Linked DNA regions of Homo sapiens. The protein of the gene in region 1 purifies or fractionates together with the protein of each later gene. This does not show direct contact. Each region holds a gene or a part of one and is shown on either strand. Other genes may lie near its edges.

Region 1 (8,970 bases):
CCAGCAATCCCATTACTGGGTATACACCCAAAGGATTATAAATCATGCTACTATAAAGACACATGCACATGTATGTTTACTGTGGCACTGTTCACAATAGCAAAGATTTGGAACCAACCCAAACGCCCAACAATGATAGACTGGATAAAGAAAATATGGCACATATACACCATGGAATACTATGCAGCCATAAAAAAGGATGAGTTCATGTCCTTTGCAGGGACATGGATGAAGCTGGAAAGCATCATTCTCAGCAAACTAACACACAAACACAAAACCAAACACCGCATGTTCTCACTCATAAGTGGGAGTTTAGCAAAGAGAACATATGGACATGGGGAGGGGAACATCACACACTGGGGCATGTTGGGGGGTGGGGGGCAGGGGGAGGGATAACATTAGGAGAAATACCTAATGTAGATGATGGGTTGATGGGTGCTGCAAACCACCATGGCACATGTATACCTATGTAACAAACCTGCATGTTCTGCACATGTACCCCAGAACTTAAAGTATATATAAAAAAAAGAAATTCACCCATGTTATCAAAAAAAAAAAAAAAAAAAGAAAAAGAAAAGAAAATAGAAAGCAAAGAGGTGGGAAGAGTTGAATTTGAAAGCACAGAGCAGCAAAAGATAGAAGCACTGAGAGGCTCTAAAGTTAGGAAGTTTTGCTGGAGAGGCAAGTGCTATAATTTCTAGACTGTTCTCCATCTTAGCTAACTGAATACAAAACTCTTCTTTGCTTACAGAGGATAAGTAGGAAAGGATGGTACTCCATCTGAGGCATGCCTCATTATCTAACCAAAGCCACTTTCTTTTCACTAATGACATGGTAATGACTGTGTACATCTTGAAATTATACCACAAAAATCAGCCCTCTTCCCACTGTTCTGAACACATGATAAATGTATTAAATGTATTGGGCAGTAACTCATGCAGTGTATTTTCCTCAAGGCTTTATGCAAGCATTAACTCATCTTCATAACAATTCCATGAGCTAGGAACTATTCATATCCCCATTTTACAGAAGACCGACACAGACTCTTCCTAACATATTCTGTGGAAGCCTGTTTATCACTACAAAGGGAAATCTTGGCATTGCAGAGAAGGGAAGTAGGTACCAATGCAATTACCAGAAATAGGCTCAAATTGTGCAGATTGTCTTGATAAGCGCTGTGTGAAGTGAAGATGGGATGAAGGAAGCCTTAATCCTCATCCTAAAGGACCCCTTTCTATCTTATACAGTAGGAAATGTGACTCCTGAAAGAAGAAATTCTGAGTAAGTAGAAGTTTTGAGAAAATGAATCTAATCTCTAGCTCTGATTATCTAGTTATATTCATTTCATAGACATATTCTACTTGGGAATCTGTAACTCTCTTCTCAGACTTGGCTGGATCTGTCTTCTGTTTCTCTAAATATTTATTTTTATTATGTCAGGGAGATAAATGGTCACATTATGACTCAATCCTGGATGTCAACTACCTATGACGGGTACTTTCTTGGAGCTTTGGAAGCTAGACCAGGTGTCTGTGGGACATCATACAGGCTTTGAGACATTATTTTCTGGTGCTGATATACTTTCATTCCATGGCTCAGTCTCTTAACCACTCTCATAATCTTTCCATGAGTCCAACAAACCAGAGAGACAATCTATACCATTTGCAACCATAAGCGCCCGATAAAGCAAACTTTTTGTGAGGAAGAGGGGGACTGTAGGATGGTAGTCATCTATGCACGAAGAAGCTCTGGCACCAGTTTCTGTAATATTTTAAGAAACTCTAGTGTGCAGAATGGACTTAAAGGATTCAAAGTGACAGAAATATAGAATAATTTAGGATATAACACCAAAAGATCAGGAAGTCTAAATCCATCTCTAATCATGAACTATTATGAAACTGGTAGCCTAGGACAAATTTCTTTATAACTGACATGAGACAGACTATCATTACTCTCATACTCTGCCAACCCCATCCTCAAAACCTGGCTAATTCAGAAAATCTCCATAAGAGCAGAAGAGGGAGATAATGCATTAAATAAGGAAAAAAGGGATGGTGGGATGGGACTGAAAAAGGATAGGACTGACATGAAAATTTAAAAAAAAAACTGGGAAGAAGGGAAAATTTACAAAAAGAGAAAATGAAAAAAGGAAGAAAGAAGGGAGTAGTAAATGTTATATAATACAACCAATGAAGGGAAGAATATAATTACAGTCATTCATGTATTTAACAAAGACTTATCAAGTATTTATTAAATGTCAGGCACTGCGGCTTACAGGCCTTAATGATCCACAGTCTAGTTGGGCAAATAAATACATAAAGGTATAATTATAGCACCATATTATAGAGATACACACAAAATACCCTGGAAATACAGAGAAAAGAAGAAGTCACTCTGTCAGAGGCCGGGTGAGAGGGAGAGCATAAACATCATACTCAACTCACTGACATTTACACACAGTCAAATTCATTCTAGATTTATCTGATATCGCCTTCTGGGAGAGAATTCTGTAACTCACTCCTCCTTCTCTTCTTAATCTGGATAAGGCCTTTCAACTTCTCCACTTCTACCCTGTGATTTTGATTAAAGTGACAATTCCTAGAGTAACAGTATTATGAAAGCCAGAGACAATTCTGGATAGCTGATATTTTACCACCTACACAAAAAAGCCACTAAATTATTACAAAGAACATGTTAACATCCTCTTTTAAGTTAATACTGATAAATAGCTAAGAAGATGAAGTTTTAATTTCTACTTTTCATGGAGTGCAGTGGTACAATTTCAGCTCATTGCAACCTCAACCTGCTGGACTCAAGCGATCCTCCTCCCTCAGCCTCCCAAGTAACTGGGGCTACAGATGCGTGCCACCATGCCCCACTAATTTTTCATTTTTTGTAGAGAAAGGGTTTTGCCACGTTGCCCAGGCTGGTCTCGAACTCCTGGGCTTAAGCGATCCTCCCACCTCCGCCTCTCAAAGTGCTAGGATTACAGGCATGAGCTACTGTGCCTGGCCTCAAATTTGATTTTTATATTCTACTAGTTTGATCCACTAGATCAAAGTTAAACATCTAACATAAGTGACTAATAGGGCTAAGTGTTAAATGTTAGTGTTTAAGAGTACAGATTATAAACGACTGCCTGGGTTCATAACTCATCTTCATCACTTCACTGGCTATGTGACCTTAGGCAAGTTAATTAACTTCTCTGAATGTAGGTTTCTTCATTTATAAAATAGGGATTAATAGCAGCTCCAACTTGTGGGTTATTTTTAAAATTAAAATACATAAAGTAGTTACTAAATGACAACACCTCTCTATTCTTATAATAGAAATGTGTAAAATTTTTACTATAGAACTAAAGAGACTGTTGGTAAAAACTGATGTCTAAATTATGTAACAAAGGACTATAATTTAAAATTTTTAATTAGCTTACTTTTAATATAGTGAGTTAAAATTTATATTTTTGTTTAGAAAATCTGAGGCACTGTTTATGCTACCTAATTAGATTTCTGATTGAGGTAAATATAGATTTAAGGAGAGAAAGTATAACCTAATGGATGTAAATAATCTATACTAATTTGACATACAATATTCATATCAAAATAAATCAATTTCTTATAAATTTTTTTAGCTTTGTTTTTAGGAGCATAGCATATATCAATTCCATAGATTCCAATATAAATATGGATATAAATGGCACCCAGTGCCTACCATTATGACCTATGTGCTTTTCTCACTAAAAATTAAAGAAAAGGATGGGTGTGGTGGCTCACACTTGTAATCCCAGCACTTTGGGAGGCAAGGCAGGCAGATGACTTGAGCCCAGGAATTCGAGACCAGCTGGGCAACATGGCAAAACCCCATCTCTACCAAAAATACAAAAAATTGGCCAGGCACGTTGGCACACACCTGTGGTCCTAACTACTGGAGAGGTTGAGGTGGGAGGATCACTTGAACCTGGGAGGTGGAGGTTGCAGTGAGCTGAGATCACGCCACTGCACTTCAGCCTGGGCAATAGAGCCAGACCCTGTCTCAAAAAAAAAAAAAATTAAAGAAAAAAAGAAAGAAATGTACTTTTACTTTAGGATGAAGCTTTTAAAAAGCGGTATCAGAAAAACATAACTAGAGTGAACACATTCTTGTTAATTCACTAGGAATCAGTCTAAGGGTAAGTTTTCCCAGTGAGATTTAAATTAAAATAAGTCAGCAGGTCAATTAATACTAAAATTATCTACAAATGATAACACTGTTCTGTTTATAACAGTTACTACAAAAACAACAAACCACAAATATAGAAGGAAATTATTCCTTCTATATTTCAGTGTATCTGATAGTACATTTTATTATTCTATTACTGCTTATACCATTGTCAACCTATTCCATCAACAAGTCCTCATTTATTAGCAAAAACACAGCAGATGCACAAATAAATATCTACTCAATGGGCAATCATTCTGCTAATAGGAGTAACTAGTCATGCATGAATCACAGCTTGCTATTTAAACAAAGGATACACTGGGGAAATGCCCACTTAGCACACAATGTACACAACTATATTATCCTGTTACTGTAATTACGTAATCATAGTAAAACCTGAGTTTTCTGAATCTTCCAAAGTCTCATTTAAAAATAATTTTATGGCCAGGCACAGTGGCTCATGCCTGTAATCCCAGCACTTTGGGAGGCCAAGGCGGGAGGAACACTTGAAGCCAGGAGGTTTGAGACAAGCCTGGGCAACAAAGGAGACCCCCTTTTTTTTTTTTTTTTTTTTTTTTGAGAAGGAGTCTCACTCTGTCGTCCAGGCTGGAGTGCAGCAGCACCATCTTGGCTCACTGCAACTTCCACTTCCTGGGTTCAAGCGATTCTCCTGCCTCAGCCTCCTGAGTAGCTGGGATTACAGGCACGTGCCACCTCACTCGGCTAATTTTTATATTTTTGGTAGAGATGGGGTTTTGCCATGTTAGCCAGGCTGGTCTTGAACTCCGGACTTCAGGTGATCCACCCACCTCGGCCTCCCAAAGTGCTGGGACGACAGGCGTGAGCCACTGCACCTGGTTCTACAGTTTTTCTTAATAGAAAGCCATATTTTATGTCTTCAGATTAAAAAAAAATTGTTATGTTTGGCTAAGAACAAAAAAACCTTTGCTAACATAAGGGGCATACAAAAGAAAAACAATAGGAACTGCAGTTTTCAAGGACGTATACTTATAAAGTGAAAAAGAGGTGAGAAAATAGAGCAATTCTGAAAGTTTTTATAGAGATTGGTCAATTTAATCACTAATCTTTATTGTTAGCTGTAATTCATAACCTAAGAAATAATCATATGAAAGTTTTCTCAATTGATTTACTTTCTTTGTTTCTTTCTTTGTTTTTTCCTTTAGAGATAGGGTCTCAGTCTGTTGCCCAGGCTGGGAGTGTAGCGGCACTAACATGGTTCACTGCAGCTTTGACGTTCCTGGCTCAAGCAATCCTCTCACCTGAGCGTCACAAGTATCTGGGACTACAGGTGTGCACCATCACACCCAGCTAATTTTTTAATTTTTGTAAACAGGGTTTACACCATGTTGCCCAGGCTGGTCTGAAACTCCTGGGCTCAAGGGATCCACTCACCTCAGCCTCCCGAATACTGGGATTATAGGCATGAGCGACTGTACCTGGCCTCAAATGATTTTCAAAAAGAGCTGGCTCAATTTACAAGTAAACAGAAGTCCCCTTCCGGAGTTATCTTTACAGAAGAAAGCTTTACAGTTTTGCAGGAAATTTTATTTCACTGCTGAGGCTAAATGATTTTGAGATCATTAAGAGACAGGTAAAGTGGAAGAAAAAAAGAACTTATTATAAACAAGAATCAAAGTCAATTTTTCTTTTTCTTTTTTTTGAGATGGAGTTTTGCTCTTGTTGCCCAGGCTGGAATGCAATGGCACAATCGCGGCTCACTGCAACTTCCACCTCTGGGGTTCTAGCGATTCTCCTGCCTCAGCCTCCCTAGTAGCTAGGATTACAGGCATGGGCCACCACCCCCAGCTAATTTTGTATTTTTAGTAGAGACGGGGTTTCACCATGTTGGTCAGGCTGGTCTCAAACTCCTGACCTCAGATGATCCACCCGCCTTGGCTTCCTAAAGTGCTAGGATTACAGGCGTGAGCCACCGCGCCCAGCCCAAAGTCAATTTTTCAAATTAAACTTGATAATCTGGTAAGATATTCCTACTGCTTTTAGAGAACAAATCTTTCCTAAAATAAAATGTTCGGTTGATACTCACATCAACTTAACAGGAAAATAATTCTTTTACCACATTTTTTTGGGGGAAGGAAACTTACAAAGTTCTACATCTTATCACAGCTAGTTAAACGAAGTAAAAAATGTTTATAATTTACAAAATCATCTCAATATTTGGCCACCTGATACTCGATCTCAGGAGGAAAATATACGTGAGTACTTTTTCCCAGGGCCTCCACTCACATAAACTATAATGTGAACCACGGCCTCTGCAGTTGTACAACCTAGCAGCCTTGGTTTTATCTTAGAGGAAGTCAATAACCAATATGCCACTCTAAAAGTGGTACACAAGTTTCTGGACTTACCAGCAGTTTAAGCAGCCAAAACCGGGATTTATAGTAGAAAGTTTTGGTGGGGTTGATAAGGAAGAAAACCATAAATCCATAAAGGGCAAGTGGATACACATATGTGGGGATGACACTAATTGGAGCAAAGAAGCATGCCAGAAGGCTCAGGCACCACAATATCCCGAGGAATCCAGCAATCTAGTAAAGGATGGGGAAGACAGAAAGATAGAGAAAAATTGTTATTTTTACTTTTACCATTACTTAAAATATCTTTAATAAAACAAAAGTAAGAAACATGATTAGTTATTAAGCTAATAATCCTCTTCAAGTAGAGGATGGATTTAAGTACCCACTAAACCAGATAGCTATATAGCTAATGCAAACTATATTCATGAGGTGTTATGTCTTGCTTTGATTACCTCAAAGAGATGTTGATGAGACAAATTGCTTCTCGGATTAAGTTCAAAGATGAGTACATGGTTTACTCCAGCCTGTCTCCAACCATACGTGTTGATGCCCAGTAGAAAAAGGAATTCAATCAGAAGAAAGCCACCCCGATAGATTCTTATCAAGGGCCATATACTTCTATCTGTTTCAAGTTTAAATACAGCTGAAAGAATATTAAGATATTGGTCAGTTATAAAATTCATAACTTCCCTTGAATTAATAATCTTTTGTCTTCATTCTCAATGATATAGCCCTGGCATAGAAATTTTTCATAAATAAAACCTAAACCTAGATTATCTATCATCTATCTATCTATCTATCTACCTATTTATTTTTTTGAGACAGTCTCACCCTGTTGCCAGGCTGGAGTGCAATGGCGTGATCTCGGCTCACTGCAACCTCCGACTCCCTGGTTCAAGCGATTCTCCTGCCTCAGTCTCCCGAGTAACTGGGATTACAGGCACGCACCACCACGCCCAGCTAATTGTTGTATTTTTAGTACAGACAGGGTTTCACCATGTTGGCCAGGATTGTCTTCATCTCCTGACCTCGTGATCCACCCACCTTGGCCTCCCAAAGTGTTGGGATTACAGGCATGAACCACCCCGCCTGGCCAAACCTAGATTATTTTAAGAGCCTTAAAAAGTCGCCTGTGGGTTCTTTCTCGTCTTCATTTTACTCTGCAGAATGTCACTAGAATAATTTCCCAAAACTTGACTTTCAGCATGTCATCCCATTGTTCTATTAGTTTTTTAGATTACAAAGAATCATGGTGAAGTGGCTTAGAATCATGTGATCAGTTCTGTCATTTGGGGATCCGGCATGACAAAACCTCTCTTTGGCTTCATTTACTCCATTATTAAACTGGATATAGTAATATCTACCTCACAGAGTTGCCATGAAAATGAGAAGGAACAGTACACATGAAAGTAGTGTGAAAATTTAAATGTCATATAAATGACAACAGTTAATATTTACGGAATGCTTACTATGTGCTAAGCACTGTTCTCAGTATTTTTACATAGAATAATTGGTAATTCATTTAACCATCACAATGGCTCTTTGAGTTAAAAACCATTATCTCCATTTGATTAGGAAACTAGAGCACAGAGAGGTTGTCATTTGCTTAGTTACTGACCTAAGCTAGAATTTGAACCCAGTTTTGCTCCAAAGTTCATACTCTTAAGCACTACATTCTATTGCCCATTATGTCCACACAAATGTTCAATATCATTATTCTATGGCTCGCCAGTAATTATAATGTTCAAATACTTTAGATACCTTAGCCTCACAATTCAAATTCTTCATAATCTAATCACCAACTCACTTTTCCCAAACTTATCTCGCAGCACCCCTAAAATATTAACTCTTGACTCGTGATGAATTTTATTATCCTTTTAATAAGTTTGTTTTTCACATTTACTTATGTTGTTCCCTCTACTTAAAATGGCCTTGTTCTTTCTCTCCACTAATTCAAATTCTACTTACTATTTAAGAGACAGATCCTGGATCCTTACCTGTTCATAAATTCACTGAATCAACATATTTCGTTTTAAGCCCACTGTATGAGAAACACTTCCATTTGGTCTAATGATTTTCCAAATAACTATAAAATTTATTGACAGTACTGCTCATTTGGAATTTAATTACATACAAACTTTTGTTTTTTTTTTTTGAGATGGAGTCTTGCTCTGTCGCTCAGACTGGAGTGCAGTGGTGTCATCTTGGCTCACTGCAACCTCTGCCTCCCGCGTTCAAGCGATTCTCCTGCCTCAGCCTCCTGAGTGGCTGGGATTACAGATGCGTGACGCCACACCCAGCTAATTTTTTGTATTTTTAGTAGAGACGGGGTTTCATCATGTTGGCCAGGCTGGTCTGGAACTCCTGACCTCAGGTGATCTGCCCTCCTCGGCCTCCCAAAGTGCTGGGATTACAGGAGTGAGCCACCATGCCCAGC
Region 2 (8,970 bases), on another chromosome or scaffold:
TGCTGTGGTGACATTTGGGACACTATCATGGTGCCTGGGGTGGGTGGGTGCCCAGGCCTGTGGGCTTCTGTCTTTCATCAAAGAACTTCAGATCCCAGAAAATTAAGATTCTCAAAACATAACTGTCGGAAAGGGCTTTTGAATCCACCTTGGTGGCCTCTTCCTGCCTCCAGGGCTCATGAGATAGGCTGACTTCATATGAAAGTTTTGAGGATGAGGAAGTCTCTCTCCTCTTCAGATACTGACCCTCTCTCTCCTTATTTCCTTGGTGCCCAGAATAGGGCTTTGGTTATCTTGAATGAATGAATATAAACTCACAGGTGTGATCTGAGCCACCTAAAGCCTTCTTTGGGTTCTGCTCAGCTTGAGGGCATCACCTAAAGGCCACTGGCTGCATTTTCCAGGAGGTGTTTTCTAAGCTGTATCTATATAGGAATGGGGAGGAAAGCTAAGTCATTGTAGACTGAGAGAAAGGGAATAAGAGTCTGTTCCAGACCAGCTAGGGCTGACAAGCTTAGGCAGCTGGGGGCAGAGGGCACTGAGAATGAGGCCCTGAGCTAGCACCGTGTGGGAAGTGCCTATGGGAGGAGCTGTGTATTGACATTTAGGATCAAATTCTGCTCCACACCTTGCATTCTTGCATGGGGGAGGTGAAAAACCTGAGTATTTCCGGCATCTCCTTGGAAGTCCCTGGGGACTTAGAGACAGACACTGGCATCTGGGAGGAGGCTAATTACTGTTTGCTAGTCTCCTTCTCTTCTTCCCCCGAGCTGGAGCAGTTGGGCAACCAACTGGCTGGCTGTGTGTATGCCCGTGTGTGCACCTGGGTGGTGCTATTTCTTTGTTGGACTCTGCTCTGAAGCCTGGGACAGGAACGGTCAGTGGCCTTGAGTGGCAGAGTAGGACACACCTCTTCCCCTGAGCCTGTGTTTCCCTGTAGTCATATCTGTATTTTTTTTTTTTTTTTGAGATAGGGTCTCACTTTGTCACCTAGGCTGGAGTGCAGTGGCACAATCTTGGCTCACTGCAGCCTTGACCTCCTGGGCTCAAGCGACCCTCCCACCTCAGCCCCCCAAGTAGCTGGGACTACAGGTGCACACCACCATGCCTGGCTAATTTTTTTTTTTTTTTGTATTTTTGGTAGAGACAGGGTTTCAACATGTTGCCCAGGCTGGTCTCAAACTCCTGAGCTCAAGAGATCTGCCCTCCTTGGCCTCCCAAAGTGCTAGGATTACAGGCATGAGCACCGTGCATGGCCTCATATCTGGATATTTAGCATATAGTGTGTCAGAGTTTATGTGTGTTAGTGGTAGTGGTGGGTGTCTGATCCCTGGAGAGCAGGTAGGTGGAGGAGGTGCGCTGGGCCAAGCTAGGTGGGTGAAATCTCCTGAAGCAGGTGGCCTAAAGGATTTAGGTTGGGGAAGGAACGAGCTTGGTAATCACAAGATAGGCTTGGCTGGAAATGGAATCAGAATGGTAGCTGAGAACACATCATGCCTGGAGCCTCCAGTGCAAAGCAAACACTTTTAAATTTCATCATGGAAGCAATGAGCAGCTCTCGAAGCTAGGGATAGATATGGTTTGATAAGTGCTTTAGAAAGATCACTATGGTTGCCGTGATCAGAAGGCACTGGTGAGAAAGAAGTTAGAGTCAGAGAGGCCTGTTGGGGGAAGCGTTTGGTAATACAGGGGAGAAGTGACAGTGCCCAAACTATGACAGAAACAGGACAGTGGGTGAAACAGAGCGAGGAAGTAGCTGGCCCACAGATGTGGTGCCAGGAGCAAAGCAGGAAGGCAGGCATGGAAATGGATTTGGTGATGGATGATGGCTGAGAGCAGGGTGAGTTTGAGGGCAAAGAGAAGCAGATGTGAGAAACAACTGGCCCCCCATGCCAGGCTCCTGCCCCAGGCCCTAATGTCTGAACCCAACTCTACCTCCCTCCAAACCAGGCCCTGGGACTAAGTCTGGCTTTGGGTGTCTTCTTCAATCTCCAGACTTCATCAGGCTTTTGACTCAGGATAAAAACACATCCCTGAGCTGTTCTCCCTTCCTCCCTCCTCTCCCCCTCTGGGGACAGGGAAGCTAGCCTACCGCCCTGTTAAAAGTCTCAAGGGGGACTGGGCGAGGTGGCTCACGCCTGTAATGCCAGCACTTCTGGAGGCTGAGGCAGGTGGATCACTTGAGGTCATGAGTTCGAAGCCAGCCTGACCAACATGGTGAAACCCTGTCTCTACCAAAAATACAAAAATTAGCTAGGTGTGGTGGTGTGCGCCTTTAATCCCAGCTACTCGGGAGGTTGAGGCAGGAGACCCGCTTGAACCCAAGAGGCAGAGATTGCAGTGAGCTGAGATCATGCCACTGCACTCCAGTCTGGGTGACAGAGAGAGACTCCATTTCAAAAAAAAAAGTCTCAAGGAGCTGGCTGGACAATACCCCCTCTCCCACCCTGACCATCCACACCTCTAGGAGAGCAGGACTTTTCTAGTTCCTTTCCCGTCTCTTCAGCCCGAACGGCCCCATGTGTGATCTGGGGAGGCCTGGCTTATCCTGTGATCCTGGAAAGCTTCCTGACCCTCTCAGGGTTTGTTTCTCCACTAGGAAAATGAGGATGGGTGCCATCTCCCAGTCACATGGGCCGCTCCCCAGTCACAGAGTCCTAATTTGGGCAAGCATTAGGTCCCATGAGAAAGGGTGGGTTAGGCACAGATTGTCCTGGTAAGGGTCTCACCTTTGCCACTCTTCAAGCCCTCAGGTTCCAGTATTCATCTTCCCAAAGTATACACCTCCTCTTAGCTTGCGGCAGCAAATGGAAATATCATGGGATGAGATAGCTCAGTTCCATCTCTGTCTCCTCCTTTCAGAGCAGGTTGAGATGAACTCAGTCAGATGGCCCCACGGCCCGCTCCTTTCTTAGCAGCCCACTAATGCTCCAGAACCCTCAGGAGAAGAGCCAGGCCTACCCCCGCCGCCGCCGGCCTGGCTGCTACGCATACCGTCAGAACCCCGAGGCCATCGCAGCCGCAGCTATGTACACCTTCCTGCCCGACAACTTCTCACCTGCCAAGCCCAAGCCTTCCAAAGACCTGAAGCCGCTGCTGGGCTCCGCGGTTCTGGGGCTGCTGCTTGTGCTGGCCGCGGTGGTGGCCTGGTGCTACTACAGCGTCTCCCTACGCAAGGCGGAGCGACTTCGCGCGGAGCTGCTGGACCTGAAAGCTGGCGGCTTCTCCATCCGCAATCAGAAGGGAGAGCAGGTCTTCCGCCTGGCCTTCCGCTCCGGCGCGCTGGACCTTGACTCCTGCAGCCGCGATGGCGCCCTGCTGGGCTGCTCGCTCACGGCCGACGGGCTGCCGCTGCACTTCTTCATCCAGACTGTGCGGCCCAAGGACACGGTCATGTGCTACCGCGTGCGCTGGGAGGAGGCAGCGCCGGGCCGGGCCGTGGAGCACGCCATGTTCTTGGGCGACGCGGCGGCCCACTGGTATGGTGGCGCCGAGATGAGGACGCAACACTGGCCCATCCGCCTGGATGGCCAGCAGGAGCCCCAGCCGTTCGTCACCAGCGATGTCTACTCCTCCGACGCCGCGTTTGGGGGCATCCTCGAGCGCTACTGGCTATCTTCGCGCGCGGCCGCCATCAAAGTCAATGACTCAGTGCCCTTCCACCTGGGCTGGAACAGCACGGAGCGCTCGCTGCGGCTTCAGGCGCGCTACCACGACACGCCCTACAAGCCACCCGCCGGCCGCGCCGCAGCGCCAGAGCTGAGCTACCGAGTGTGCGTGGGCTCAGACGTCACCTCCATCCACAAGTACATGGTGCGTCGCTACTTCAACAAGCCGTCAAGGGTGCCAGCACCCGAGGCCTTCCGAGACCCCATTTGGTCCACATGGGCGCTGTACGGGCGCGCCGTGGACCAGGACAAGGTGCTGCGTTTTGCCCAACAGATCCGCCTGCACCACTTCAACAGCAGCCACCTGGAAATCGACGACATGTACACACCTGCTTATGGCGACTTCGACTTCGATGAGGTCAAATTCCCCAACGCCAGCGACATGTTCCGCCGCCTGCGCGACGCCGGCTTCCGCGTCACGCTCTGGGTGCACCCTTTTGTCAACTACAACTCGTCGCGCTTCGGCGAGGGCGTGGAGCGCGAGCTGTTCGTGCGCGAACCCACGGGCCGGTTACCTGCGCTGGTGCGCTGGTGGAACGGCATCGGCGCGGTGCTAGACTTCACGCACCCAAAGGCCCGCGACTGGTTCCAGGGACACCTGCGGCGGCTGCGCTCTCGCTACTCCGTGGCTTCCTTCAAGTTCGACGCGGGCGAGGTCAGCTACCTGCCGCGGGACTTCAGCACCTACCGGCCGCTGCCGGACCCCAGCGTCTGGAGCCGGCGCTACACTGAGATGGCGCTGCCCTTCTTCTCGCTGGCGGAGGTGCGCGTAGGCTACCAGTCACAGAACATCTCCTGCTTCTTCCGCCTGGTGGATCGCGACTCTGTGTGGGGCTACGACCTGGGGTTGCGCTCACTCATCCCCGCGGTGCTCACCGTCAGCATGCTGGGCTACCCATTCATCCTACCCGATATGGTGGGCGGCAACGCCGTGCCCCAGCGGACAGCCGGCGGCGATGTGCCCGAGCGCGAGCTCTACATTCGCTGGCTGGAAGTGGCCGCCTTTATGCCGGCCATGCAGTTCTCTATCCCGCCCTGGCGCTACGACGCGGAAGTGGTGGCCATCGCGCAGAAGTTCGCCGCCCTGCGGGCCTCGCTTGTGGCACCGCTGTTGCTTGAGCTGGCGGGCGAGGTCACCGACACGGGTGACCCTATCGTGCGCCCCCTTTGGTGGATTGCGCCCGGCGACGAGACAGCTCACCGTATCGACTCGCAGTTCCTTATTGGGGACACGCTGCTTGTGGCCCCGGTGCTGGAGCCAGGCAAGCAGGAGCGCGACGTCTATTTGCCCGCCGGCAAGTGGCGCAGCTACAAGGGTGAGCTTTTCGACAAGACGCCGGTGCTGCTCACCGATTACCCGGTCGACCTGGATGAGATCGCCTACTTTACCTGGGCGTCCTGACCCAGCCCAGGGCCCGGTAACCGCAAAGCCCCCAGTCTTCATGCAGACCTTGAACCCTCCGTCACACCCGCACCATGTACTCCCAGGAACCTCCCACCTCTATACCACCCATTAAGTGGCTGCTGACTTAAATGTGCTGGAACCAGCTGCTGAAGGTGGGGCCTAGGGAGGGGGCACTGAAGCAATCTCCTGCTCCAACGCACAATCCTTACTGTGCCCTTTCCACCCCCACACTCACACCAATCTGCAGAAACCTCTTCCCTGGGGTGGAAGCCAGAGAGCTTAGAGGAAAAAGGTCAGCTCTCTTCCTGTTATACATGGTTATACATGGTTGGGGTTTAAAAGCACAAAGAGAAACCTCCCCCTCCTGGCTTTCGTGGCCATCTTTGTCCATCTTAGGTGGGGACTTGATCTTATTTAAGGTCTCCAAATAGCCCCCACCACACTTAGAACGTGTGTTTTCTTAGTGTTAGAAGCCAGGCCCTGAGTCCCCAGCACTCACCTGAACTGTGGCTGATTTGGTCCCAGTCCAGCTGGGGAGGTGTTTGGCTGACAAGGAGGCAAGAGATCCCCTCCCAGGGAACAGGAGGACTGGGCTTAGCACAGAGCCATCATCATGTTCCCAATTTGTGAAGAGACTCCTAACACTGCACTAACCCATTTGTGTACATACATGGGCTCAGCCCTGGGCCAAATGTGCCTGATGGGAACAGACTTGCAGGGCCATGCAGGCCAGACTTCGTGCCTTAACTGAAGAGTGTGCGTGTGTGTGTGTGAGAGAGAGAGAGAGAGAGAAACACGCATCATGGGTCCCTGATCTATGAAATGAACACAACCTCTCTGAGGCTGGATGATCTGGAGGAAGGGGGCATGGAGCAAATTTGAGGCTCTGATTGCTGAGCCAGCCTCCTCCCAGGCGGTTTCCCCAGGACTCTCGTAGGAAATAAATAGCCCTTTCAAGATTCCTCAGCTGCCTCACCCCCTGCACATGTGCCTGGGGTGTGGCCTAGAAGGGAGTGATGTTCTTACTCTGGTGGTCTGTGCTTCTGAACACAGGCTACATGCACACACTGACAACTACCAATAAACAGACAGGGGAAGGTCTTTCATCTCAGCCATTTTCTCTTCCCCCCGCCCCCCCTTAGATGGAGTCTTGCTCTGTCACCCAGGTTGGAGTGCAGTGGCACAATCAGCTCACTGCAACCCCTCCTCCTAGGTTCAAGCGATTGAGTAGCTGAGATTACAGGCATGCATCACTATGCCTGGCTTTTTGTATTTTTTAGTAGAGATGGGGTTTACCATGTTGGCCAGGCTAGTCTCAAACTCCTGACCTAGTGATGCACCCACCTTGGCCTCCCAAAGTGTTGGGATTACAGGCATGAGCCACCACGCCAGCCATTTTCTCTTTCTAAGAAGAGCAACCTCAGCCGGAGTGAGTTTTTTCTGACTTTGCAGCTGAGTCTGGAGAAAAGTGGCATGCCAGAGCGGGTCGGTGGGAAACAGGGTGAACTTTAGCTTCCATCAACAGCTCTGGTAGCAAAACCAGTCCCCTACCCCCTAGAGAATGCATCCGTTTCCCCACCTGATATGGTTTGGCTGTGTCCCCACCTAAAACTCATCTTGAATTGTAGCTCCCATAATTGCCATGTGTTGTGGGAAGGACCCAGTGGGAGATAATTGAAATATGGGGGCAGTTTCCGCCATACTGTTCTGGTGATAGTGAATAGATCTCATGAGAGCTGATGATTTTATAAGAGGTTTCCCCTTTTGCTTAGTTCTCATTCTCTCTTGCCTGCCGCCATGTAAGACGTGCCTTTCTGTCATGCTTGTGAGGCCTCCCCAGCCACGTGGAGCTGTGAGTTCATTAAACCTCTTTTTCTTTATAAATTACCCAGTCTTGGTTATGTCTTTATCAGCACTGTGAAAATGAACCTATACAGTAAATTGGTACCAGTAGAGTGGGGCGCTGCTGTAAATACCCAAAAATGTGGAAGCAACTTTGGAACTGGGTAACAGGCAGAGGTTGGAACAGTTTGGAGGGATCAGAAGACAGGAAAATGTGGGAAAGTTTGGGACTTCCTAGAGACTTGTTAAATGGCTTTGACCAAAATGCTGATAATGATTGGGACATGAAATCCAGGCTGAGTTGGTCTCAGATAGCGATGAGGAACTTGTTTGGTACTGGAGTAAAGGTGACTCTTGCTATATTTTAGCAAAGAGACTGGCTGCATTTTGCCCCTGCCCTAGAGATTTGTGGAACTTTGAACTCGAGGGAGATGATTTAGGGTATCTGGCAGAAGAAATTTCTAAGCAGCAAAGCATTCATGAGGTGACTTGGGTGCTGTTAAAAGCATTCAGTTTTAAAAGGGAAACAGACTATAAAAGTTTGGAAAATTTGCAGCCTGATGATGAGATAGAAAAGAAAAACCCATTTTCTGAGGATAAATTCAAGCCCCCTGCAGAAATTTGCATAAGTAACAAGGAGCCAAATGTTAATCACTAAGACATGGGGAAAATGTCTGCAGGGCATGTCAGAGACCTTTGCAGCAGTGCCTCCCATCACAGGCCTGGAGGCCTAGGAGGGAAAAAATGGTTTTGTGGGCCAGGCCCAAGGTCCCCTTGCTGTGTGCAGCCCAGGGACTTGGTACCATGCATCCCAGCTGCTCTAGTCATGGCTAAAAGGGGCCAAGATACAGCTCAGGCCTTGGCTTCAGAGGGTGCAAGCCCCAAGTCTTGGCATCTTCCACGTAGTGTTGAGCCTGCAGGTGCACAGAAGTCAAGAACTGAGGTTTGGGAACCTCTGCCTAGATTTCAGAGAATGTATGGAAATGCATGTATGTCCAGGCAGAAGTTTGCTACAGGAGTGAGGCCCTCATGGAGAACCTCTGTTAAGGCAATGTGGAAGGGGAAGCCCCCACACAGAGACCCCACTGGGACACTGCCTAGTAGAGCTGTCAGAAGAAGGCCACCGTCCTCCAGACATCAGAATGGTATATCCACTGACAGCTTGCACCATGCACCTGGAAAAGCCACAGACACTCAACGCCAGCCTGTAAAAGCAACCGAGAAGTAGGCTGTACCCTGCAATGCCATAGGGGTGGAGCTGCCCAAGACCATGGGAACCCACCTCCTGCATCAGTGTGACCTGGATGTGAGACATGGAGTCAAAGGAGACCATTTTGGAGCTTTAAGATTTAACTGCCCTGCTGGATTTCAGACTTGCATGGGGCCTTTAGCCACTTCGTTTTGGCCAACTTCTCCCACTTGAAATGGGTGTATTTAGCCAATGCCTGTACCTCCGTTGTATCTAGGAAGTAACTAACTAGCCTTTGATTTTACAGGCTCATAGGTGGAAGGGACTTGCCTTGTTTCAGATGAGACTTTGGAGTATGGACTTTTGAGTTAATGCTGAAATGAGTTAAGACTTTGGGGGACTGTTGGGAAGGCATGATTGATTTTTAAATGAGAGGACATGAGATTTGGGAGGGGCCAGGGAGAGAATGATATGGTTTGGCTGTGTCCCCATCCAAATATCACCTTAAATTGTAGCTCCCATAATTGTGGGAGGGACCTGGTGGGAGATAATTGAATCATAGGGGCAGTTTCTCCCATACTGTTCTGGTGGTAGTGAATAAGTCTCACGAGATCTGATGGTTTAATAAGGGGTTTCCCCTTTTGCTTGGCTCTCATTCTCTCTTGTCTGCTGCCATGTAAGATGTGCCTTTTGCCTTCCACCATGATTGTGAGGCCTCCCAGCCACATGGAACTGTGAGTTCATTAAACCTCTTTTTCTTCATAAATTACCCAGTCTCGGGTATGTCTTTATCAGCAGTGTGAAAACAGACTAATACACCACTCCTCTACCTTCTTTATTTTCTCAGTGTGGAAAATGCCTGATGA
Region 3 (7,170 bases), on another chromosome or scaffold:
AAAGATAAGCTGTTAATTCACATTGTCAGGGTGAAATTCAACAAAACTCTGTTTTAGGGTAAAGATTTGGGGACCCTTAGAAATTTCCTTGTGAGCAATTTGTGAGGGAGGTCACTGGCCTTCTATCTTTGCAAGTAGCTGCTTAGGAAGGTAGTTTTTGTGTGACTCAGTTCCCACTTTTAATTTTTCCCTTTAGCATAGTGAGTTAGGGATCCTGAGATTTTGTTTTCCATTCACATTTTCTTATCACATACTTTTAGTAATAATGTGCCACAAAGCCACAGCAGCTTTGGAGAACATTTTCTTTCATGAACTTGTTTACTAATCTTTTTGAAACAATGAGCCTTCTGAATGATTGTCTTATTGGCAAGAGAGGCTGGGATCTTAACTAAAAGACAAGGGTATGTGAAGTAGGCTAGGGGTGTGGTGAGCTGTGGGTGTTCTCTCCTGCTTGCTTCTGTTGTCTAAGTGAATTGGAAGCCGGGACTTTAGCAGGGAGTGAGGTTGGGGAGGAGGTGTCAGAAGTGCGAGGAGAGACTGGAGGATGTGTGATAGCTTCTTGGAGAATAGAAGAGCAGATGGCCTGGGAAATAGAGTGTGACTATAAGCAGCATTAAAGGTGCCACTCATGAATTTAACATGAGGCCATTCTGCAGGGTTGTAAGTTGCCCTCTAGGCATATTCACGTTCATGAGCACAGGCACCAGAATGGGCTGAGTATTGGCATTTAAAAAGTTGAAGTTGGGGTTTGACAAAGTGAGTACAGTGATTCAAGGGAAGAGGCAAAGAAGTGATTATAATGATTGAACCAGATGCTTAAGCTCAGTAGTGAAAGGAATGAGGAAATGTCCAGTGTGGGAGACAGAAATAAAGATGGGAGGATCAATGGATCCTATTGTCAAAGGATGGATAAATTTGCAGTTGTAGGGGAAGTAAGCTGTGGAGGTAGAGGTGGTTGTCAGAAGCTAGGTTGAATGATACTGAAATTAGAGGGGTTGCAAGTATTGGTAATGGTCCATATTTGGACCTTTGTGTGAATGGCTAAGAAGGTTGGAGGACAGGACCATTGGAGGAAAAGAGCCTAAAGAACCAAGAAGCCAGAGTGCTGGAAGAATCATCTCCATGGGTGTTGAAATCACTAACATTTAAAAATGGCTTTAGAGTAGGGGACTTTGAGCCATTTTTTACTTCAAGAAGTGAAGGAACATGACCTACGGAGTCAGTAGATGACTGCATAATGGAGTCATATAGTCTGATGATATGAGATTCAAAGCTGGGTGTTTTTAGGGAGAGGAGAAAGAAGATACCCCAGAGGCCCCAATGAGGACCAAGGAAGACTCATGCAGTGTATGAGGAATGGGGGAGAATGGGGAGGGGAAGTGCTGTGTGAGAGGGTTATGAGGGAAGCTGTGTCTTCAGGTAGATGCAGATATTGATTAGAGCAAGTAGATGCAGGCAGCATTCAGAGAAGGGTTTGGGAACATGGGTTTTGCGGATCACAGGCCACATGACCTATAGGACAGGTTTCAAGAGCTAGGAAGAGTGAGGCATAGGGTCACAAAAAGGGGTATGCAGATCTCTATATGACTAGAATACAGGTGATGGAAGGGCAACCAGGAGTCTAGAGCTTTTTAGGGTGGCCCATTAAAATTAGGGATAAAGGGTACAAAGAGGTTAGTCCTGATGGTCCCCAGGTGGAATGAGGCTGTGAGTGACAAAGGCAAGGAGGGAAGAGAGAATCTTTTAAAATCCTCAGATATAATACAAGTGCTCAGAATTTAAAGCAGAAAATTATCTGAGGAGGCCTTCTCCTCCTACTCTGTTTCTAGATTTTAGAAATTGAGTTTACAAAGAGCTAAATGGTTCCCAGTTGTACAGCAACTTAGTGGATGGAGCAAACATGTAACTCAATACAAGAGGCCCCTTTCCCATTTTCTTCCTTCCCTTTCCATGTGTTTTTTCCTGCTCTTCTCTTTTCTTCATTTTTTCATGTCTTGGGTCGAATGGAAATTCATGAAAAGTATATATTTTCACCTGGAGGGTTGGGCTAATATTTACATAGCATGATCTTAAATTTTTAGAATTCTGACACCTAAAATGAGCAGTATTGTGTGTCCAATTAATAGACACATCTCATTCTCAAGGATAATGGAGTATATAGGCACAATTCAAAAATCCTCTTGGCTTTATATTTAACATGAATCAGCGCCAGAGTTTCAGTTATCAATATTAATATGTAACAAAATGTTCCTTTCTCATATGGGGTTAATCTCTCCCCTTCTCTGTCCTCAAACCACTTCTTTGAATTTACTGTGGCCGGCACTTACCTCATATTACAATTGAATGAGGCTGCCTGGCTGAGATATCTTCCACACCTGCTTCACAGGAGGGCCTCCCCTCAGTACAATGCCTGGAACCCATCAGTGTTTGCTGAATTTTTGCTCCCTCTAACATGGCAATCAAATGTTCAAAATGGAGAAGCAAGTGTCTGAAGAATCCAAATTTGAATAGTCATGGAGAATGGGCTCTAGGCCAGAGTCAAATGAGTTTGCTGCTTTCAGCATACCTGGGAAAAGGAGGGGCTCCGTGGGCAGTTTTTCCAGTGGCTTCATTAGGAACATGCTTCCAGGGAGCAGGATAAAGTCCCCCATAAAATAAGGTGTAAAGACAGATGGAATATCTTTCCTGAGGGTCCAGAAAGGCCTTTTATGATTTATGAGGCATGGACCAGTTTGGATGATTTCATTTTAGCACTTTTTTTTTATTTTTTTCTAATTTCAAAATCCTTTTAGAAGACCAAATGTTTGACCTTCCCTTCAAAAGGTTGATACCACTTCCATGAGTGTGGCCTGGATTTATATTGTCTCTGACCTGGGACATTTAACTTTAACTGGCACCACTAAACACCCTTGGGTTATGATTCCTGCCTTGCCTTCCTCTTCTCTGGACTCCAGCTTGGGATCAAGATGGTTGGCATTGTTAGGGTACCCCCTCTACAGATGACCTCCCACAGTCCCCCAGGAAGACATGGGATATTTTCACCAGCCTCATTCGCTCACCATTGGTACCTTCAGCAGAAAGAAATGAAGTCCTCTCCATTTTAACTTTGCTTCCAGCCTGGCCAAGAGAAAAGACTTTCAGACTTCCCTCTAAATCAGCTGCAGTGATAGAAAGCAGACTAGGTAACTTCAGCATGAGAGGGAGGGACCTCATTGCAGGAAGCAAAAGTCACAGTAGAGTTAAGACTCTTGAAAGAAGCACTTTTATTTTCTTGAAGAATTGACAGATCTCTGCTTCCTGTAATGTTTTGTGCAAATTTCTGACAGTGCTATTTTCCCTTCCCATAGGCAATGTGAAGTATTCATCCGGCCAACCAATGTTTCCTGACGTACAGTGTTGCCCTTTTCAGCAAATGCCAATTCCAAGTTCCATTAAATCAGAAGCTCCATGGCTCCTTGGCCCACGATGTTGAGTGCTGACTGTGTGTTCTACTGAAAGAGTAAAACACTGACTATCCAAAGAGAAATGGATATTTTGTTTTTATAATAACCATATATTATTGTTTTCTTCTTCCCTTTCTATGCAAGTGTAAATTAATGAACAGAGAGGTATTTGGAAATGGTAATACATTTGTCACGGATTTGTATAATGTATACAGCATTGGGAAAGTGGGTGGGGGCTTTCTAATATGATACCGTCTTTTTAATAACTATGACAAAGCTTACATAAGAATTAGAAGACCACTTTACATTTTTACATTCCTTCTGCTGTTCATATTAACCTTGCACAATTACTTCATTTTTTCTTTGACTCTTTTACCACAATGTTTTGGTTATTTATAATTTATCAGCCATATGTTTATCAGCCATATAACCAACTAGATCCCAAATAGATCCATGTATTTGTTTCCGTGATTTGGCCACATTAATAAATTCATAAATTTCAATCAAATATCTTATATATACACACATATGGTTTAAGCTACAGCCCTGTGTATGCCGTTTAACTTTATTTGACGTTGCCCACTTACTTCTTTGCTGACCACTTGGATAACCGTAATAAAAATCCTATAAGCCTAAATGGCATTTCTTTTGGGATATTTTTCCTGCATTTTATTCCCTTTTTATATAAGTAGGAATTAATTATTTATTTTATGTCTTAATCTATTTGATAAAGAAGACTACATTATAATAATCTCAAAGATCATATTACCAAAGGTTGCCCACTTGAGCATATTTTCATTTTGACACAGAAACAAAATTTAGTACAACCTTTCCTAGTTCCCATGTCTTGATTTTCATCATTACATGCACAGCAGACCTTTACCTATTGTGATACCAGAACACATCATTGTCTTTGGTTCCCTTCAAAGAGAATTTTATTGTTGTTTTGTATTTTCAAGTCCTTAATAGTTCTTGAAACTCCTAGTTGTTTTCTTGTTGAAAGCAGACACACATTTAGTGCACGGCTTATTTTACCTTTCGGGTGAAAGATCAGATGTTTTTATACCCTTCACTTGATCAATATATTTGGAAAGAATGTTTATCAAAAGTCTATGTCACTGCTTCTACAGAAGAATGAAATTAATGCTTAGGTGATGGTACCTCCACCTACATCTTTTTGAGTGCATTCAATTATGTATTTTGGTTTAGCTTCTGATTTAACATTTAATTGATTCAGTTTAAACATGTTACTTAATTAGCAAATGTAGAGGAACCAAAAAAAGGTGAAAATAATATGTTTTGATTCAAACCTAAAGACATAAAAACATAAAGACATTTTAACTTTGGGTTCTCTTTAGCTGGGATCTGGCCAGAAGGAGGCTTAAAGTTAGAAATTGCTATTATTTTAGAATAGGTTGGGTGGGTTGGGGGGCAAGGGTGTCTATTTGCAGCAGAGATATTTTGAAAAGAAGAAAATTGTTTTATATAAAAAGGAAAGCCATGACCACCTTTCTACCTCAGATCCATCTTCATCCATTGCATTGGAAACTGCTTTATGCTGCTGCAGTCTGCAAAGTCTAGAGCTTTTATCAGGCCATGTCATACCCAAGAAAGCACCTATTTAAAGAAAAAACAATTCCCTGAGCTCTCAACTCCAAGTTGTAGATTTGGTGTCTTCCTTGTTCTTACTTTAAAAAGTCATGTGTTAATTTTTTTTCTGCCTGTATTTGTATGCAAAATGTCCTCTATCTGCTATTAAAGAAAAGCTACGTAAAACACTACATTGTAACCTTCTAAGTAATAATAAATAAAAAGAAATATATTGCAGTAACAATGGGAAGTAAGTATGTAGTTCTTTTGAAATATGTGGTAAAGAACTAATCACAGACTATCATCTAATCTGGTTACATATTGTATTTTTCATCCTGAATAAAAGTAATTTTAACACAAGATGACTTTGATATTCTTCAGCTGGATTCACTGATAGAATGTGAGTTTTGAATGCACATTTATGAAAACAAGATATAGAGATAGCCTGTGTCCTGATACATCTACATTTTTTCCTGCAGTTTCTCTCATACACACTAATACAGTCTCCTGTTGCTCTCATTCTCTCTCTCTCCCCATCTCTTACACATACATATAATTATATGATTCTCAATTTATTTTCCAGATAGAAGGTTTATTGATAGAGAAAAGTAATATTGGATGTAAAAATGTGTACATAAAACCTGTTGAGTGTTTTAATAACTAGATGCTGTTGACATTAAGTTCCTTTCAAATGTACTTTTAGTTTCATGCTCTCAAATACTGTATGCTTTTTATCCGTACACTGGATTTTAACCACTCTAGTAGGTTTAATCAATTTCTGAAGCCATTCAGTGGGAAACAATGTTGAGAATCATGTTGCTTTATTCTAAAATTAAAAGCTGTCTATGAACTAGAAAAATCATCTAAAATATAATTTGTTAAAATAAAGAAAACTGATACATTCTGATGAACAAACATTTTAAACATCCTGTGTACCACTAAGTAATGCTGACATTAAGCATTCCTGAAAAAACACTTGATTTCCAGCAACTTGTTGACTAGGTAGCTGAAAATAGAAGTGCGAACAAATGAACAAGTTTTGCTTTCATACTGCTGTGGTTTGAATGTGTCACCCACAGTTCATGTGTTGAAAATTTAATCCCCGATTCCATAGTGTTGAGGGGTTGGACCTTTAAGAAGTGATTGGATCATGAGGTCAGAGGTCATGAATGGATTAATGTCATCACAGAAGTGTGTTTGCTATCTCAAGTGGGTTTATTACCAAAGCACGTTGGGTTCTCTCACTTTCTCTTGCATGTTCTCTGCCCTGTCACCTTCCACCATAGGATGACGCAGCAAGACAGGCCTTACCAGATGCTGGCACCTTGATATTGGACTTCCCAACCTCCAGAACGCTGAGAAATAAATTTCTTTTCTTTGTAAATTACCCAATCTGTGGTATTCTGTTATAGCAACACAAAATAGAATAAAGATGTATACTGTGCCTTCAAGTTGTTATATATCACATATATATATAATATATATGTTACAATCAAGGCACAGTATACTATATATACTGTGAAGGCATAGAGATAGATGATAGATGATAGATATAGATAGATAGATAGATAGATAGATAGATAGATAGATAGATGATAGATAGATGATAGATAGATATAGATAGATGATAGATAGATAGATAGATAGAGATAGACAGACAGATAATCTTTGTAGTTTGCTCCTGTGTATCTTTTCTCCCACCCACATTCACTGTTTCAGTATGCCAGCTTTTTCAAAGGCCTTTCTAAATTCATTAGTGGAGAATTTAATGATAATACAGTAAACCACCACTAACGCTACTACTTAAACCTATGAGTAGGATCCAAAAGCTTCACTGACATACAATGTCAGCTTGTGTTTTTGTGAGGTTAATTAAGTAACCAGAATGAGGCTGCTACAGACAGCAGGAGATAATCACAATTACATCGCATCCACTGCCTATGGTATCAGTTATCTATTGCCACAGTCATGCTGCATGGGAGCCATAAAATCTTAATAATAAGAATTTATTTAGCTCATGGTATATGGGGTTCAGCTACTCTGGGCAGACTCTTCTGATCTCAGTTAGACTTGCTCACACATTTGTGGCCAGCTTTGGATCACTTGAGGGCTCTGCTGATCCTGGCTGGGTTGCACC

What was found.
Region 2: the proteins of XPR1 (region 1) and MYORG purify together in Homo sapiens (affinity purification with mass spectrometry; 2 studies listed by BioGRID and IntAct, with this or other methods). This does not show direct contact.
Region 3: the proteins of XPR1 (region 1) and UTRN purify together in Homo sapiens (affinity purification with mass spectrometry; 2 studies listed by BioGRID and IntAct, with this or other methods). This does not show direct contact.

What each region holds. Positions count from the first base shown.
Region 1 is NC_000001.11:180,822,959-180,831,928, reverse strand, and holds part of XPR1 (solute carrier family 53 member 1), read right to left. Parts: intron 7,177-8,970; coding exon 6,986-7,176; intron 6,765-6,985; coding exon 6,585-6,764; intron 1-6,584. UniProt on the Homo sapiens protein: Inorganic ion transporter that mediates phosphate ion export across plasma membrane.
Region 2 is NC_000009.12:34,366,899-34,375,868, reverse strand, and holds part of MYORG (myogenesis-regulating glycosidase), read left to right. Parts: intron 1-2,862; 5' UTR 2,863-2,925; coding exon 2,926-5,070; 3' UTR 5,071-8,970.
Region 3 is NC_000006.12:144,847,642-144,854,811, forward strand, and holds the end of UTRN (utrophin), read left to right. Parts: intron 1-3,347; coding exon 3,348-3,356; 3' UTR 3,357-5,393; downstream 5,394-7,170.